Linked DNA regions of Homo sapiens. The protein of the gene in region 2 purifies or fractionates together with the protein of the main gene of each other region. This does not show direct contact. Each region holds a gene or a part of one and is shown on either strand. Other genes may lie near its edges. The genes, in order: RALGAPB, PARP3, EHMT1 and MTHFD2.

Evidence for each region.
Region 1: the proteins of PARP3 (region 2) and RALGAPB purify together in Homo sapiens (affinity purification with mass spectrometry; one large-scale study listed by BioGRID and IntAct). This does not show direct contact.
Region 3: the proteins of PARP3 (region 2) and EHMT1 purify together in Homo sapiens (affinity purification with western blotting, with the first as the bait; one study listed by BioGRID). This does not show direct contact.
Region 4: the proteins of PARP3 (region 2) and MTHFD2 purify together in Homo sapiens (affinity purification with mass spectrometry; one large-scale study listed by BioGRID and IntAct). This does not show direct contact.

The regions. Positions count from the first base shown.
Region 1 is NC_000020.11:38,545,474-38,549,526, forward strand, and holds part of RALGAPB (ral GTPase-activating protein subunit beta), read left to right. Parts: intron 1-769; coding exon 770-957; intron 958-3,215; coding exon 3,216-3,322; intron 3,323-4,053. UniProt on the Homo sapiens protein: Non-catalytic subunit of the heterodimeric RalGAP1 and RalGAP2 complexes which act as GTPase activators for the Ras-like small GTPases RALA and RALB.
Region 2 is NC_000003.12:51,945,140-51,949,697, forward strand, and holds the end of PARP3 (protein mono-ADP-ribosyltransferase PARP3), read left to right. Parts: coding exon 1-85; intron 86-355; coding exon 356-505; intron 506-713; coding exon 714-800; intron 801-1,026; coding exon 1,027-1,204; intron 1,205-2,600; coding exon 2,601-2,756; intron 2,757-3,171; coding exon 3,172-3,341; 3' UTR 3,342-3,728; downstream 3,729-4,558. UniProt on the Homo sapiens protein: Mono-ADP-ribosyltransferase that mediates mono-ADP-ribosylation of target proteins and plays a key role in the response to DNA damage. Mediates mono-ADP-ribosylation of glutamate, aspartate or lysine residues on target proteins.
Region 3 is NC_000009.12:137,831,459-137,834,322, forward strand, and holds part of EHMT1 (histone-lysine N-methyltransferase EHMT1), read left to right. Parts: intron 1-2,864. UniProt on the Homo sapiens protein: Histone methyltransferase that specifically mono- and dimethylates 'Lys-9' of histone H3 (H3K9me1 and H3K9me2, respectively) in euchromatin.
Region 4 is NC_000002.12:74,204,562-74,208,614, reverse strand, and holds part of MTHFD2 (bifunctional methylenetetrahydrofolate dehydrogenase/cyclohydrolase, mitochondrial isoform A precursor), read right to left. Parts: intron 2,911-4,053; coding exon 2,726-2,910; intron 912-2,725; coding exon 789-911; intron 47-788; coding exon 1-46. UniProt on the Homo sapiens protein: Although its dehydrogenase activity is NAD-specific, it can also utilize NADP at a reduced efficiency.

The DNA.
Region 1 (4,053 bases), on a different chromosome or scaffold from region 2:
AATATCATCTGGCCCTTCATATGCATCTCAATGGGAAGACCAGTATTCTACAGCACCACATTTGTCATCTCAACTCTCAGCTTGAATGGCCTCTCCTCTTTCACTCTAAGGTTTGAACCTAAAGCTCTCTAACAATGGAGAGCAACATTGCTCAACAGATTATTTTTCTTCCATTTCCTCTCCTCCTAAAACGAAGACTGTCTCAGAACTTCAGGGACCAGGAGAACTTGGCATTAAGTTCAGGCCTCTAATGGTTTGCAGAAAATAGGAGAAACACCAGGAGATCAATAATGAGAAAATATGGCTTTTAAACACCAGGAGATCAATAATGAGAAAATATGGCTTTGGTTTTCTAAAATGGGATAGAGACGGTTGTCACAAAGCATATGGAATATGAGCTTGCTGTGTTCCATGCAAGATTCTAAGATATCAGATAGGTTGCTGGTAAGGGAGTAGGTCACTAAGATCAAATTATACCAGCCTAACTGCATTTTCTGTTCCGGATATTGACCAGACTGGAAAGGCAGATTAAATGTCTCTGAAATAAAGACATACAGGTATGCATCTGGGGTAATGGGCTTTTTAATCTTGGAGGGGAGAGTCTGGACAGCATGCCATGGCATTCACCACAAGGAGTAAATCTGACCTGTCAAGAAGCATGGCTGTGGTCAATTAAAATTCAGAAGAGTGGAAGGGGACACATTGATGCACAAGGTAAACTGAAGATTTTGCTTTGGGAATTAACTGTTATCTTTTCCATTCTCCATAGCATTATGCAGTTGCTCGGCGCATTTCCTTCACCTAGTGGTCCTGCCTCTCCTTGTAGTCTTGTGAATGAGACCACTTTGATTAAATACTCCAGGCTGCCAACCATAAACAAGCATAGTTTCCGGTACTTTGTCTTGGATAACAGTGTCATCCTGGCAATGCTGGAACAACCTCTTGGAAATGAGCAGAGTAAGTTTATAGTACTTTGAGCCTTCTCTACTGCTTAATCAGTGTTACCAGTACCATGAAGCTGTTTCCAGGATCAGGGAAGGACAGCCTACAGATTCTAAGTAGGTCAGAAAGATTTCTAGCTGTGGGACAATAGCACCTGAAAAATAGGGGGGCAAAAAAATAGAATATACATATTACATAGAGTCTTTTAAAGGCTCTTGATGTGCATCTGAACTAGCTCTGTAGTTTTATAAAAGGTGGTGTTTTAGTGGGTTCCATTGTGTTGTTTATCTTTGTCACTTTTTCTTCCCCCTTGAACTTCGGATCCTGCCCCTCTGCTCCCCTCCCTCTCACTCCTCATGTTCTGTATCAATTGTTGGTGCTACCTACACAGGCTAGAAACTTGAGGAGTTATCTTTACCTGCCCCTTCCTGTTACTCACTTATATAATTAGTTTCTAAGTTTCCATCTTCCCAGGGACCCTTGAATTTTTCCTTTCCTCTGTATTTTCCCAATACATCCAAGTGCAGGTCCTTATTATTTCTCACCTAGATTATTACAGCTGTTTCCTACCTACTCTGATTCCCTCAACCCCTAAACCCCTTGCCAGTTCTAACATGTGTTTTCCCTACTTTCATCCTACTTGCTGCCACCATAGTATTCATCTTCAACCACAAATGACCATGCCAGTGCCCTACTGAAAATCCTTCAGTGATTTTCCATTAACACAACATGCACTGTTTTCCTCCTTTCCCTCCCCCTCAGTTATAAGCCATCTCACAATATGTGATTATCACTGCGACCCAAACTATCCACAAGTACATTTTTTTTTTCTGATGGTAATTGGCATCAGCCAGTATGTAAAAGAAGCATGTTCTCAGACCCTTATTGCTGGGAAGGGGAAGGAAAGTGAAGGTTACAGAATCTGTGGGTATAAAGTGACCCATGGAGTCACCTGGTATACAATTCCCTTAGTTATGAGTGAAAAAACTCAGGCTCACAGAGGGTATATGACTTGCCCAGGGTTACTTGGGACTAGAGCCCAGATTTTCTAAACCCTGTATTGTCCCTTTCTATTATTATTGTCGCACAGTGATAGGATTTGCTCAGTGATTAAAGATTTGCCTTCTTGCCTTTGTAAAGGTGAAGAGTTCTGTGCCAGTTTTGTTGATTATATGAGTAAGAGCTCATAAATCCATGAAGTGAAAGTGAGACATTTCCCTGCAGTTTGAGATGAAAAGAATACCATCATAAACTTCTGTTGTGTTGTGGTGAGATGCGGTGACATTAATGTGAAATGGAATGGTGCCTTTTATTATTGTCTAACTTCAGAACTGCTACTCCCAAGTCTTTTCTACAGGCATCTCATCCTTCTCTACCCTAGACATGGAGCTTGCTTGGCTTTCTTTCCTAGCCTGTGCCTGTTCATGATTCCTCCAGCCTCCTACTCCAAGCCATCTGCTGAGGAGTCTGCAAAATCCCAGTGTCCCCTTCAGGCTTCCTGGCCTTTTTCCAGCTTTTTAAAGACTCTCCTACTTTCATTCCAAATAATTTCATTGCATAGGAAGTGTACCAAAAATACAAGCAATTGGAATTGTATAGATTTACAAGGACATTTTAATAGTTTATTGTAATAATAAGAAATTATAGAGAAGTTTGAAGGCGTTTGACTCCCATATCTGAGACGGAAGAATAAAAAAAAGGATCTGGGTCACTCGGGAAGTCCATCCTGAGTGTTTTTTTTAACACCCCCATCATGTCCCTGAACTTCTGCTGAGATGGAACAGTGCCTGCCTGTGGTGGGCAGTGGTACACAAAGGCATGGGCAGATATAACACTAACACTGCAAACACCCAGTCTGTCTTTCTACACTTAAGTTGTTCCCAACATTGGGAGGTTAAGAGTATTTACTAGGACAGTGTTTCCCACAAATGTGTACATGTACCATTGGAGGTATGTGAGATGATCTTAGTTGATACATTAGTGAACATTATTTTATGTATTTTTAAGCATGTGCTTTAAAATTATATAATTAGTACATGCCAAAATTCATGATTTTCCATTTAGAGATGCACAAGAGTGGTTGATACAAAGTAATAGTACTTACAGTACACGGGTATGGGTACGGCAGAAACCACAGAAGTGGTACACAAAAGATCAAAGCTTAGGAAACACTGTTGGGCCTTTGATTATGAGAAGCTCTGCAGTTGATAACAAGTTTATTTTAAATGGTTGTTGTCTGAAATTAAAACTTTTATATACATATTTTATTCTAGATGATTTTTTCCCCTCTGTCACTGTGCTGGTCCGGGGAATGTCTGGAAGACTTGCTTGGGCACAACAGCTTTGTCTTTTACCCAGAGGAGCAAAAGCAAATCAGAAGGTATTCATCAGAAGTTACAGGGAAGTGTGTGTGTGTTTTGTAATTTAAAGGTTAGGTAACATTCCAACAGAAGACACAGATCAAATAAATATTTTTGATCCCTAGCCAGATTCTCAGTCAGTGGGTTCATATCAGAATCATCTAGGAACCTAGAATTCCAGATGTACTCAATTACTCTTTAAAGACATGTTCAAGGCAGGTGTCTTTTCAAAAAGCTTTCCAGGTGATTCTGACATCTACTTAGGAGTAATTGCTGTTGTGGACAATGGCCCCAGTTTTTTCCATGTAATTTTACAAATGTAATAAAAGTCAGATATATACCATACGTGAAAAAAATTTGGTGGGACTTTTGATTTGTCCGCAACAGGACTTAGTTTGAAATTGTTTTATATGATTTGTTCTTATATAATAATTGGTAATATATTGTATAAATTTTATTTTTTTTATAAAGAGTCAGGGTCTTGTTCTGTTGCCCAGACTGGAGTGCAGTGGTGTAATCATAGCTCACTGCAGCCTCAAGCTCCTGGGCTCCAGTGATCCTCTTGCCTCATCCTCCTGAGTAGCTGAGACTGTAGGCACATGCCATGGCACCCAGCTCATTTTTAAAATTTTTTGTAGAGATAGGGTCTTGCTTTGTTGCCCAGGCTGATCCCAAACTTCTGTCTTCAAGTGATCTTCCCACCTCAGCTTCCCAAAGTGTTAGGATTACAGATGTGAGCTGTCACACCCAG
Region 2 (4,558 bases):
CGTCATCCCGCACAACTTCGGCCACAGCCAGCCCCCGCCCATCAATTCCCCTGAGCTTCTGCAGGCCAAGAAGGACATGCTGCTGGTGAGGGCTGGCAGGGGTGCGGGCAGGCAGTGGGGCACTGAACAGACAGCCTAGGCGAGCGAGATGAAGGGCAGGTGGCCAAGAAGGCCCAGAAGGATGGACTGCCTGGGCAGGCTGACAGACGGGTGGGGAAGGCTGGGCAGACAGATAGGGTGGGGAGGGACAGGTGGGACACACAGGTGGGGTGGCTACAATACCAGTCATGTGAGAGAGGAGAGGGGAGGCCAGAGGTCAAGTGGGAAGACAAACTGCCAGGGCCCATCATCCTAGGTGCTGGCGGACATCGAGCTGGCCCAGGCCCTGCAGGCAGTCTCTGAGCAGGAGAAGACGGTGGAGGAGGTGCCACACCCCCTGGACCGAGACTACCAGCTTCTCAAGTGCCAGCTGCAGCTGCTAGACTCTGGAGCACCTGAGTACAAGGTGAGTTGGGCCCCACAGAGGGGCCAGGCTATCAGTGGGCACTGTCCCTCTGCCCACCTGCCCTCGAGGTGCCCAGAGGAATACTCGCCCTCAGCCTTCTCTTCCTGTGTCTCCAGGGCCTGAGGAGGGCTTGGGACTGGGGGAAGAAAAATGGGGGATTAGCTCCTGAGCCTCCCACCCTGGCAACCAGCTTCTGCTCTCCCCACAGGTGATACAGACCTACTTAGAACAGACTGGCAGCAACCACAGGTGCCCTACACTTCAACACATCTGGAAAGTAAACCAAGAAGGGGAGGTGAGGGAGGTTCCCCCACCTCTCCCCCATCACCACTGTGCCTTAGGAAGATGTCCTTGGCTAATCGGTCCCTTAGCAAATCGTTTAGCAGCTCTGGTCAGTTTCTGCCGGCCATGAGTGCGCGTGAGTAAGCAGAGGGACACTAGGCCTTGGTCACAAGCAGCAGGGCAAGGCGACTGAGTGCTCGGGTGGCATCACTCCCATTTCTCACTTCCTCTCCACTCAGGAAGACAGATTCCAGGCCCACTCCAAACTGGGTAATCGGAAGCTGCTGTGGCATGGCACCAACATGGCCGTGGTGGCCGCCATCCTCACTAGTGGGCTCCGCATCATGCCACATTCTGGTGGGCGTGTTGGCAAGGGCATCTACTTTGCCTCAGAGAACAGCAAGTCAGCTGGATATGGTGAGGTGCCCCTCTGGGCCAAGCCCTGGGAGGGTTGGCACTAAGATGGATTGGGCCCAGTCCTTGGCCACTGGAAATTCATGGTGAATCCAAGAGAGGAATCCTTTAATGGTTAATGACTACAGTGCTCAGTGGGCTGTCCTGGGCTTTGGTGGCGGGGGGTCTTAGAGAAAGTGTCTGATGGTCAGGGATGGCTTCCTGGGGGAGGCAATACAGATAGGATGGGTGCACCAACCAGACCTGGGAGGGGGTAAAAGGGGAGCCTTTGAGCCAGGTGTGGTGGCATACACCTGTAGTTCCATCTACTCTGGAGGCTGAGGCAGGAGGAACGCTTGAGCCCACAAGTTTAAGGCTGCCATGAGCTATGATCACACTCCAGCCTGTGTGACAGAGCCAGACTCCATCTGAAAAAATAAAAATAAAAAAGAGGAGACGTCAAGGCAAGGGGATAGGCAGAGAGGCTGGGAGGATGTGAGGATGTGGCAGGTCAGGGCTTCCAAACACTTCCTGATACTGGAGCTCAGAGCAATGCCTAGCCGGGGGCAGGGTGGGCTAGGGGCCCAGAACGATCGAGGAGGCTTTATCCAGAGAGTGATGGTTAGCCCAGCTGGACTTGTCTGTAGCAGGATCCCAGTGGCTACAGCTGTGGAGAGGGGGGCAGCAGCCAGAGGCTGCAGAGAGGCCATCCTCTTATCCAGGCTGGATGTGATGGGTGCCTGGCCCAAGGGCTGGGAAGTGCAGGGGAGGGAGCCCATGAGAGGGGCATGTAGGAGATGGGATGGGGAGCGTGTGGGAAAGGGTCAAGGCTGTCTCCAGTGACTTCTGAGTTTCTGGCCAGGAGTGTCCTCACCAAAATGACCCCCCCAGACCAGCTCCTCCACCCAGGCTGTCCCCATCATTGGAGGCCACCACCCAGCTGGCCAAGAGAGCAAGGACCAAGGATTCATCCCAGAACAGATGGGGCTGAAGTTCTAGGATGCCTGAGGTCACCAAGAGCAAGGGGTCCACCAGGAGGGCAGAGGGGCTTAGGAAAGAGTGGCGGGGTGGAGGGCTTAGGAGAGCCAGCGCGAGGAAGTCCCAGGTAGGGGCTGATGATGTCAGGAGCAAAGTCAGCAGAGCAGGCCAGGGAGAAAAGCCCCTGCCACGGGTTTGGTCACTGGGAGGCCATTGCTGACCTTGGTGAGGACAGCAGAGGGTACAGATGCCTGGCCATAGGGAGCACAGTGAGGTGGGAGGGAGCAGGCCGGGACAAGGAGGGAGTGACGGTTGGGGGAGAGTGAGCCTTTTCTTGCTGGAGCAGCAAAGCCAGAAGGAATAACATCGCAGCAGAGAGGGGCCCCACAGGTCAGCAGGAGGCAGGCTGAGCTGCCCACCGGTGCCTCCCTGTGTCTTGCAGTTATTGGCATGAAGTGTGGGGCCCACCATGTCGGCTACATGTTCCTGGGTGAGGTGGCCCTGGGCAGAGAGCACCATATCAACACGGACAACCCCAGCTTGAAGAGCCCACCTCCTGGCTTCGACAGTGTCATTGCCCGAGGCCACACCGAGCCTGGTGAGTCCTCAGAAGCTGTACAGCCCAAGGAGAGAGGTGGGGCCGAGATAGGGGCTGGGACATTTTCAGGGAGGGGGCTGTGAAGAGGGACAAAAAGAAGCTTCCCTGTCGTCACTCAGTTTGTCATTTGACAAACATCCACTGGTTCAACACATCATTCCTGGGCATCCCGGAGGGCTTCAAAAAGAGGAGTTGTTGACTGAGCATTGAAGGATTAGTACAAGTTTCCCAGAGAGAAGTCGGGGAGGACACCCCAGGCAGAAGCCCCAGCCCCTGCAGTGGTTTGGAGGTGGGCAAGGTGGAAATGAGCAGGCGTGCCCTGTGACAGACATGGAGAGCATAGGGGGCAGGACTTACTCGTAAGGCCTGGGACCAGTGACCCCTGGGCCACCCTGGCCCTTGCTGTGCCCTGCAGATCCGACCCAGGACACTGAGTTGGAGCTGGATGGCCAGCAAGTGGTGGTGCCCCAGGGCCAGCCTGTGCCCTGCCCAGAGTTCAGCAGCTCCACATTCTCCCAGAGCGAGTACCTCATCTACCAGGAGAGCCAGTGTCGCCTGCGCTACCTGCTGGAGGTCCACCTCTGAGTGCCCGCCCTGTCCCCCGGGGTCCTGCAAGGCTGGACTGTGATCTTCAATCATCCTGCCCATCTCTGGTACCCCTATATCACTCCTTTTTTTCAAGAATACAATACGTTGTTGTTAACTATAGTCACCATGCTGTACAAGATCCCTGAACTTATGCCTCCTAACTGAAATTTTGTATTCTTTGACACATCTGCCCAGTCCCTCTCCTCCCAGCCCATGGTAACCAGCATTTGACTCTTTACTTGTATAAGGGCAGCTTTTATAGGTTCCACATGTAAGTGAGATCATGCAGTGTTTGTCTTTCTGTGCCTGGCTTATTTCACTCAGCATAATGTGCACCGGGTTCACCCATGTTTTCATAAATGACAAGATTTCCTCCTTTTTTAAGGCTGAATGGTACTCTGTTATGTATATGCACCACATTTCCTCTATCCGTTCATCTATCAGTGGACACCAAGCTGCTTCCATATCTTGGCTATTGTGAACAGTGCTGCAGTGAACTGGGAAAGCAGACGTCTCTTGAACATACTGATTTCATTTCCCTTTGATGTATACCCAGTAGTGGGGTTTCTGGATCCATATCACCCCTTCTTGCCAGGCTCCCCTGTGTCCCAGACATCGATCCCCCTTCCCTCCAATCCCTGTTAGCCTTGATGTGTCTGTGGCCCCAGAGTCTTGCCTCCTAAAGTGATGGGTGTGGTACGGGCGTATTACAGGGACACAGATGCAGCAGCTTACTCAAGGGGCACAGCTGAGAGTGGCTTGGATCCCACATCCACCCAGGCCGTCCATCCTGGCCTGGACTGCATGTTGGAGCCATGTGGTCACCAAGGTAGGCTAAACTGCAGGCATGTGCAAGCAGCTTTACTAAACATGGTATTCTCTTGCCCCAGCCTCTGCCTGTCTGTGCCACAACTGTGCTGGGCCTGGGCCTCCAGCCACACTCCAGGGAGCGAGCGCTCACATGGGTTGATGTGGATCATGCACATACTCCTTGCCCCTCCTGGTCCATCACTGCAACAACCTGCTTCCTCTAATTGAGCCTTCAAGGGGGACCCCCACTGTCTACTCAGAACTATTTGTCATCTGGGGACCCACCTGGTGATTCTGTCCTTTATCCCAGACATTGCCAGGTGAATCAAGCATTCTTCATGTCTTGGCACCAAACATCCCTTTGTGTCTTTTTTTTTTTTTTTTTTTTTGAGGCAGGGTCTCAC
Region 3 (2,864 bases), on a different chromosome or scaffold from region 2:
TTGTTTGACTTTACCTGTCATTAGGCAAATCTCTGAGATTCTGTTCATCCACCCAGTGATGGCTTCAGCAGCCAGTGAATTTCGATGTAGAATTTCCGTTGGATTCTTTTTCTGTTTCTCCGCTGAGACTTCTCATTTCTCTGATATTTTCATGCCTTGAAATCTTTCTTTGTTCTTCATTGAGGACAGCCTTAGGAGCTGCCTTGAAAATACGTGTCTGTTGGCCCAGTGTCTGGTTCATCTCAAGGCTGGACTCAGTTGAGTGTTCTTTCGGACGTGTTCGTTTCCTCAGTGTTTCAAGCGTCAGGTCCCTTGAGTTGTTCCTGTTAACATGTGGGGAGGACTCTGGTTTCTCTTCTGCGTGGGCCTTGTTTCCCTAGTGCGATTGGCTGGGCCCCTTCTGCAGGCCCGGCCTCTCTAGTGGTCCCTGTGCTTTCGCCTCAGTCCTAGGATTGGCTGGGCTCCCTCCACAGGCTCCGCCTCCTACGTGGCTGCTGCACTTCGCCCCAGTCCTAGGATTGGCTGGGCTCCCTCCACAGGCTCCGCCTCCTACGTGGCCGCTGCACTTCGCCCCAGTCCTAGGATTGGCTGGGCTCCCTCCACAGGCTCCGCCTCCTACGTGGCCGCTGCACTTCGCCCCAGTCCTAGGATTGGCTGGGCTCCCTCCGCAGAACCCCCCAACCCCACGTGGCCCCTGTGCCTTCCCTCCAGTCCTAGGATTGGCCAGGCTCCCTCCACAGGCCCCACCTCCTACATGGCCTGTGTGCCTTCATTCCAGTCCTAGGATTGGCTGGGCTCCCTCCTCAGGCCCCGCTTCCCACGTGGCCTCTGCACCTCGCTCCCGTCCTAGAATTGGCTGGGCTCCCTCCACAGGCCCCGCCTTCCACGTGGCCTCTGCACCTCGCTCCCGTCCTAGAATTGGCTGGGCTCCCTCCACAGGCCCCGCCTCCCACGTGGCCACTGCACTTTGCTCCCATCCTAGGATTGGCTGGTCTCCCTCAGGCCCCGCCTCCCACGCGGCCTCTGCACCTCGCTCCAGTCCTAGGATTGGCTGGGCTCCCTCCGCAGGCCCTCCCCCCACCCACCCATGTGGCCCCTGTGCCTTCTCTCCAGTCCTAGGATTGGCTGGGCTCTCTCCGCAGGCCCCGCCTCCCACGTTGCCTATCTGCCTTACTCCAGCCGTCCTTCTCTGGACTGTTGTCTTTATCTGGTTCTGGTCGGGCAGAGATTTGTGTCACAGACTTTGACACCCCACCCATCTTAGAAGCTCGGAGCAGCGCTGTGTGCTCTGCCAGACGAGCTGCCCCTGGTGAAAGCTGGGCCTGGCCCCTCCAGTCGGAAGCCCCTCACTCTCCATTTTGCTGCTTATCAAGACCTTCGTGTGTGCGCCGTTGCTAGTTCCGGAATTGCATTCTGCACGAGGAGGGGTCGCCTATAGATTCTTAGTCCATCAGACCCCGAAGCAGAGGCCAAAGTCCACGCCAGGTGAGCCACTCTGAACTCTGTTTCTTTGGGGTAAACCAGGAGGCAGCTTCCCGCGCCTTTGGCTTTGGGGGCTGTGGCTGGTCCTGTCCTGCGGCCGTGCTCGCCTGGTTTACTGTCTTGTCACTGCCCGCGCCGTGAAGGTTGACGGAGAGCTGCTCTCGTCCACGCCTTTACCCGCTTGTTGGTTTGGGTTTTAACCTCTTGACCTCTGAGCGTCCCTGGCTCTCTGGTTAATGTTCATGCTGGGGCAGGTTGTGGACCAGGTGTCTCTGCCGGCAGGCCCCGCCCTCTCGGAACTCGGTCCTGGAAAGCCCCAGGTGCCTCCTTCCCCGTCTGCCTGGCTGTCGTCTGTGGTGTTGCCTCTTCCCGTCGCTGGGTAACAAACCACGCCACCCACCCGCAGCTCGCCATGGCGGCCACCCACTCGGCCCAGTGTGCGCAGCAGGGGTTGGGCGTGCCGGGCCTCGGGCTGCACAGGCAGGGTGCTGCTGAGCCCAGGTCCCTGTGGTTGCGTGGGCAGCGTCTAGGTTCCTTGCTAGCTGCCGGCCGGGACCACCTACCTTACTCCCACGCAGCTCCTCCATCCAGGCCCCAGCAGCTCCAAGCCCTGGGTCTCCAGAGAGAATTGCTTTTAAAGGGGTTGCGTGGTTAGGTCAGGCCCACCCACCTCGTCCCCCTCTCTATGGTCAATTCAGAATCCATCATCACAGGCCAGTGCCAGGGGCCAGGGCCCAGGGCCATGTGGCCACCCGGAATCCTGGGCTCCTCTCCAAGGCACCAGGGTGAGGAGGACGCCTCAGTCTCTTCGGCCTCGTGTTCCACAGTCACATCAGCACCCGGAAGGGCTGCAGCAGAAGTCGTTTTCTGTGGGCAGCCTCCGCCTGACGGTCCTCCCTGGTGCCATTCGCCACTGAGTCTTCCCAGACCCTCTGGGGACTGCTCCGCCTCCTCGTCACCAAGACAGTGTGTCCCGGATGCCAGCTCCATCCCTCCCGACCCCCTCAGCCCCTGCCACTGCCTCACGGGGCTCTTGCAGCCCCGGCCTCCTTTCTCCTATTGGTGCCAGACAGCCCCATGGGTCCTCGGGTGGGATGGCGCTGTCCACATTCCACCGCGCTGGAAGCCCCATGGGGACGCCGTCAAGGGAACGGCCCGCACCACCCCCACCCCACCACAGACGGAGGCCCAGCGAGGACGGCAGGGTGCGGGGTGGGTGGCCACACAGCGAGGAGAAGGCTGGCGGAGGCTCCGCACCGCCGCCACAGGTCACTGGAGAAGGCCCCTCCTGCATGGCGGGCCTGCGCCCAACTGCAGGCTCCGGGACTGCCATGCATGGCCGTACCCGGCGAGGCCGGCGTGTCGGGGCCTTGCTAACTGCA
Region 4 (4,053 bases), on a different chromosome or scaffold from region 2:
TTGTCTGGAGAAACAGCATTGCAGATCCTTCTCTCATCAATATGCTCTGAAAAAGAAATTGGCACAGTTGCCTTAAATCACCACCGCATAGTCAGCACTGCCTGACTCCAGCTTATCTGCTTCGCAAGGAAATCTATTCTTCTACAGCTTGCCTCTGAGATGTACTTCATCTGCATGGAAGGAACTCGCATAAGCAAAGCCAAACACCAATAGCAAAGCCAATATCGTCTATCACAGCTGCTTCCCTCCACTGTCCTTTGTATCAAGACCACAATACTAAATCAAGGCGTAATTGGTATTCTGAGTTGGTCTGTCCCATTTCTAATAAAATATTCACTCTTTTGAGTTTATTTTGCCTTTAAGCCAAATCCACATGAAGAACCAGGTGTATAAAGTAACAAGGCCTTTTTACCCCTCAGAAACCATTTTAGGTAGGGCATGGTAGTTCATGCCTGTAATCCCAGCACTTTGGGAAGCACAGAGTCCAAGACCAGCCCAGGCAACACAGACAGACTTTCATTTCTAGGAAAAATGTAAAAATTAGCTGGGCATGGTGGACATGCCTATAGTCCTAGCTATTTGGGAGGCTAAGGCAGGAGGATCCCTTGAACCCAGGAGCTTGAGCATGCAATGAGCTATGATTGTACCATTGCACTCTAGCCTGGGTGACAGAGTGAGACAAGGAAAGGAGAGGGAGGAGGAGGGGGATGGGGAGGGAGAGAGAGAGGGAGGGAGAGGGAAAGGAGCAGAAGCAGCAGCAATCATGTTAAATGGAGTCCAAAACTCACCTGGAAGAGGCAACTGAACAAGGAGGCCATCTACATTATCATCATTATTCAGTTTATTGATTAAATTCAACAATTCTTCCTCTGAAATTGAAGCTGGTTTCATAATTGTCTCACTGTTGATTCCTATTATAAGAAATTTTGAGGTTAAAAAAATTTTTGAGGCATTTAATGAGCACTGCTATGTTGCCTACCATACTTGGCTACCATACGGGTTTTGTATCATCACACTCATCCCTAAAAGCTGAAGTAGCTCAAGGAACCTAAAAAAGTAACTTCACAAATATATACACCAGAGAATACTAGCTTAACACATCCTGTATACCTCATTCTATGCAATCTTCATTAACCTTATTTTACAGACAGACTGAGGCTCAGAGAGGTTTAAAAATAAGCGAGCTAGGCCAGGCACAGTAGCTCACGCCTGTAATCCCAGCACTTTGGGAGGCCAAGGCCAGCGGATCACGAGGTCAGGAGATGGAGACCATCCTGGCTAACACGGTGAAAACCCGTCTCTACTAAAAATACAAAAAATTAGCCAGGCTTGGTGGAACGCGCCTGTAGTCCCAGCTACTTGGGAGGCTGAGGCAGGAGAATCGCTTGAACCTGGGAGGCGGGGGTTGCAGTGAGCTGAGATCGCACCACTGCATTCCAGCCTGCGCAACAGAGCGAGACTCCGTCTCTAAATAAATAAATAAATAAATAAGCGAGCTAATAATACAGCCAGTCTTTCTGGTTCCAAAATCCATGTTCTTTTTTTCTGCACCACACTACCTCCCAATGTCTTAAAATGCCATGGCTTGGCCAGGCACAGTGGCTCACGCCTGTAATCCCAGCACTTTGGGAGGCTGAGGCAGGCGCAGATCACCTGAGGCAGGTGGATCACCTAAGGTCGGGAGTTCGACACCAGCCTGACCAACATGGAGAAACCCCATCTCTACTAAAAATACAAAATTCGCCAGGCATGGTGGCCCATGCCTATAATCCCAGCTACTCGGTAGGCTGAGGCAGGAGAATTACTTGAACCCGGGAGGCGGAGGTTGCGGAGAGCCGAGATCACGCCGTTGCACTCCAGCCTGGGCAACAAGAGCGAAATGCCGTCTCAAAAAACAAAACAAAATGCCATGGCTTGCCATTATCTAGAGGTTTCTAAAGGCTTTCAATTAAAAGAGCAGGAGGCCTCACTCCTCAATAATAAAGAACAGAGAAAACCACAGGCTTACAGGCCAGTAACCCCACCCAGCCACGCGAGTGGTTTCACAGCCCTTCGAAGGAAAGGCCACCTGCTGCTCAGACCACAGGCCCACAGATGGGCAGGCAGAGGCATATCTGAGCCTGCCCACCCACCTCTTGTCCACAGAGACACAGTAATCTGTGGTACCGTGAGACCTAGAACACAAACCCCATCATCCAGACCTGAACTGCTTCTAAACTGCATGTTTGGCTTTAGAACCAATCGGTGAAGAACTTGAAAGCTATTTCCCAGAAGTCAGAGTCATTTCCTTCAAATCTACGACTGTGTTCCTGACCTCATCACTGAGGTCACCTAATACTGTATTGCTCAATCATGCCCCCTAAGCCTCTAAGGCTTTAAGCTGCAAACACTCAAACACCTCCACTGGAGACCCATTATTGCTCAAGGAAAGCAAATGTAAAATGCATTCAGGGTCACCTATCAAATATAAAGACTAAGAACAGAATGTAGCTTATATTCTTTCCAGAAGCCACAGAGAATACCAACCAGTATCTCCTGTCCTACTGTATAAACCCCGAAAGATATAGTCTGATTTCCTATGACAAAGTTTTGGGATACAGTTCAATCACATTAGCCTCCTCTGCTTGGGTTTCCTAATCAGAAAAAAGAAATCATAAATTAGAATGGACTTTGCCTCATATAAACCTCAACTGAACCGCAGTCGAGGTCTCAGAAGGACACATACCCACAACTGCAGCTGCCCTGGTTTTGTTGAGGACATAGGAGTGACTTGCAGGATTCTCGCCAACCAGGATCACACTCAGGTGTGGCCGTTTGTTGCCTGAGGCCACCCACTCTTCTACCTCCTGCCGCACTTCCTGCTTGATCTGCTGGGCCAGTTTCCTTCCAGAAATGACAACAGCTTCATTTCTGCAGAAGGCAACAGAGTCACAAAACCAAATAACTTGAATTTTTATAAAAACTAAAACTCTGCCAGGTGTAGTGGCTTATGCCTGTAATCCCAGCACTTCGGGAGGCCGGGGCAGGAGGATGGCTTGAGCCCAGGAGTTTGAGACTGGCCTGGGCAACATGGCAAAACCCTGTCTCTGCTAAATAAATAAATAAATGAATGAATATATCCAGCTACATATGGAGGGGGATAAAGTTGATAGAAATCATTATTATCATTAATTTGAAGCTCAGGGAGTTTAAGTGACTGACAGCGCTTGGTCAAGCTGAGTCTCACATCAGTCTGGGCTCTTAACTGCTACACCACCCTGCGCCCTGATCATTACTAAGTGTTTTACAGTTTTAATTTGCAATTGTTTGACCCCTCACCATGAGGTTAAATAGTTTTTCTTATCTGCTTATATGCCATTTGTAGTTCGTGTTTTGTCCCTGTTGTTAGCAGCCAGGCATGTATTTCAAATCATTTCCCAGTCAACTGACTTCATTTTTATGGTGGTTTAAATCGATAAATTATATTCTGTAGTTGAATAAACAAACAATATAGGCCGGGCACGATGGCTCACGTTTGTAATCCCAGCACTTTGGGAGGCCGAGGAGGGCAGATCACAAGGTAAGGAGTTCGAGACCAGCCTGGCCAACACATGAAACCCTGTCTCTACTAAAAATACAAAAATTAGCTGGGCGTAGTGGTGGGCTCCTGTAATCCCAGCTACTCAGGTGGCTGAGGCAGGAGAATCACTTGAAACCAGGAGGCAGAGGTTGCGGTGAGCTGAGATTGTGCCACTGCACTCCAGCCTCGGTGACAGAGCTAGACTCCGTCTCAAAAATAAACAAACAAACAAACAACATACTGGACAGGTCAAACATCAAAATGACCACCACTCCCCACAGTCCCTTCTGGGGAAGACTTTCCTGGTAAGAATAGGGGCAGGGCAGGGGACTGGAGGAAGCTCCTTCTCACAGTTGGCAATGTGCTCTTCCCAGGGACCCCACCATATCATCCAAAGCTGACAGACCAGGAGTGAGTATGTGACGCCAAGGGCAACAATCTCTAGGCTGGCCAGTGGTCCAGTTGGCGCAAAAGCTTAGCTCAACAGAGCAGTG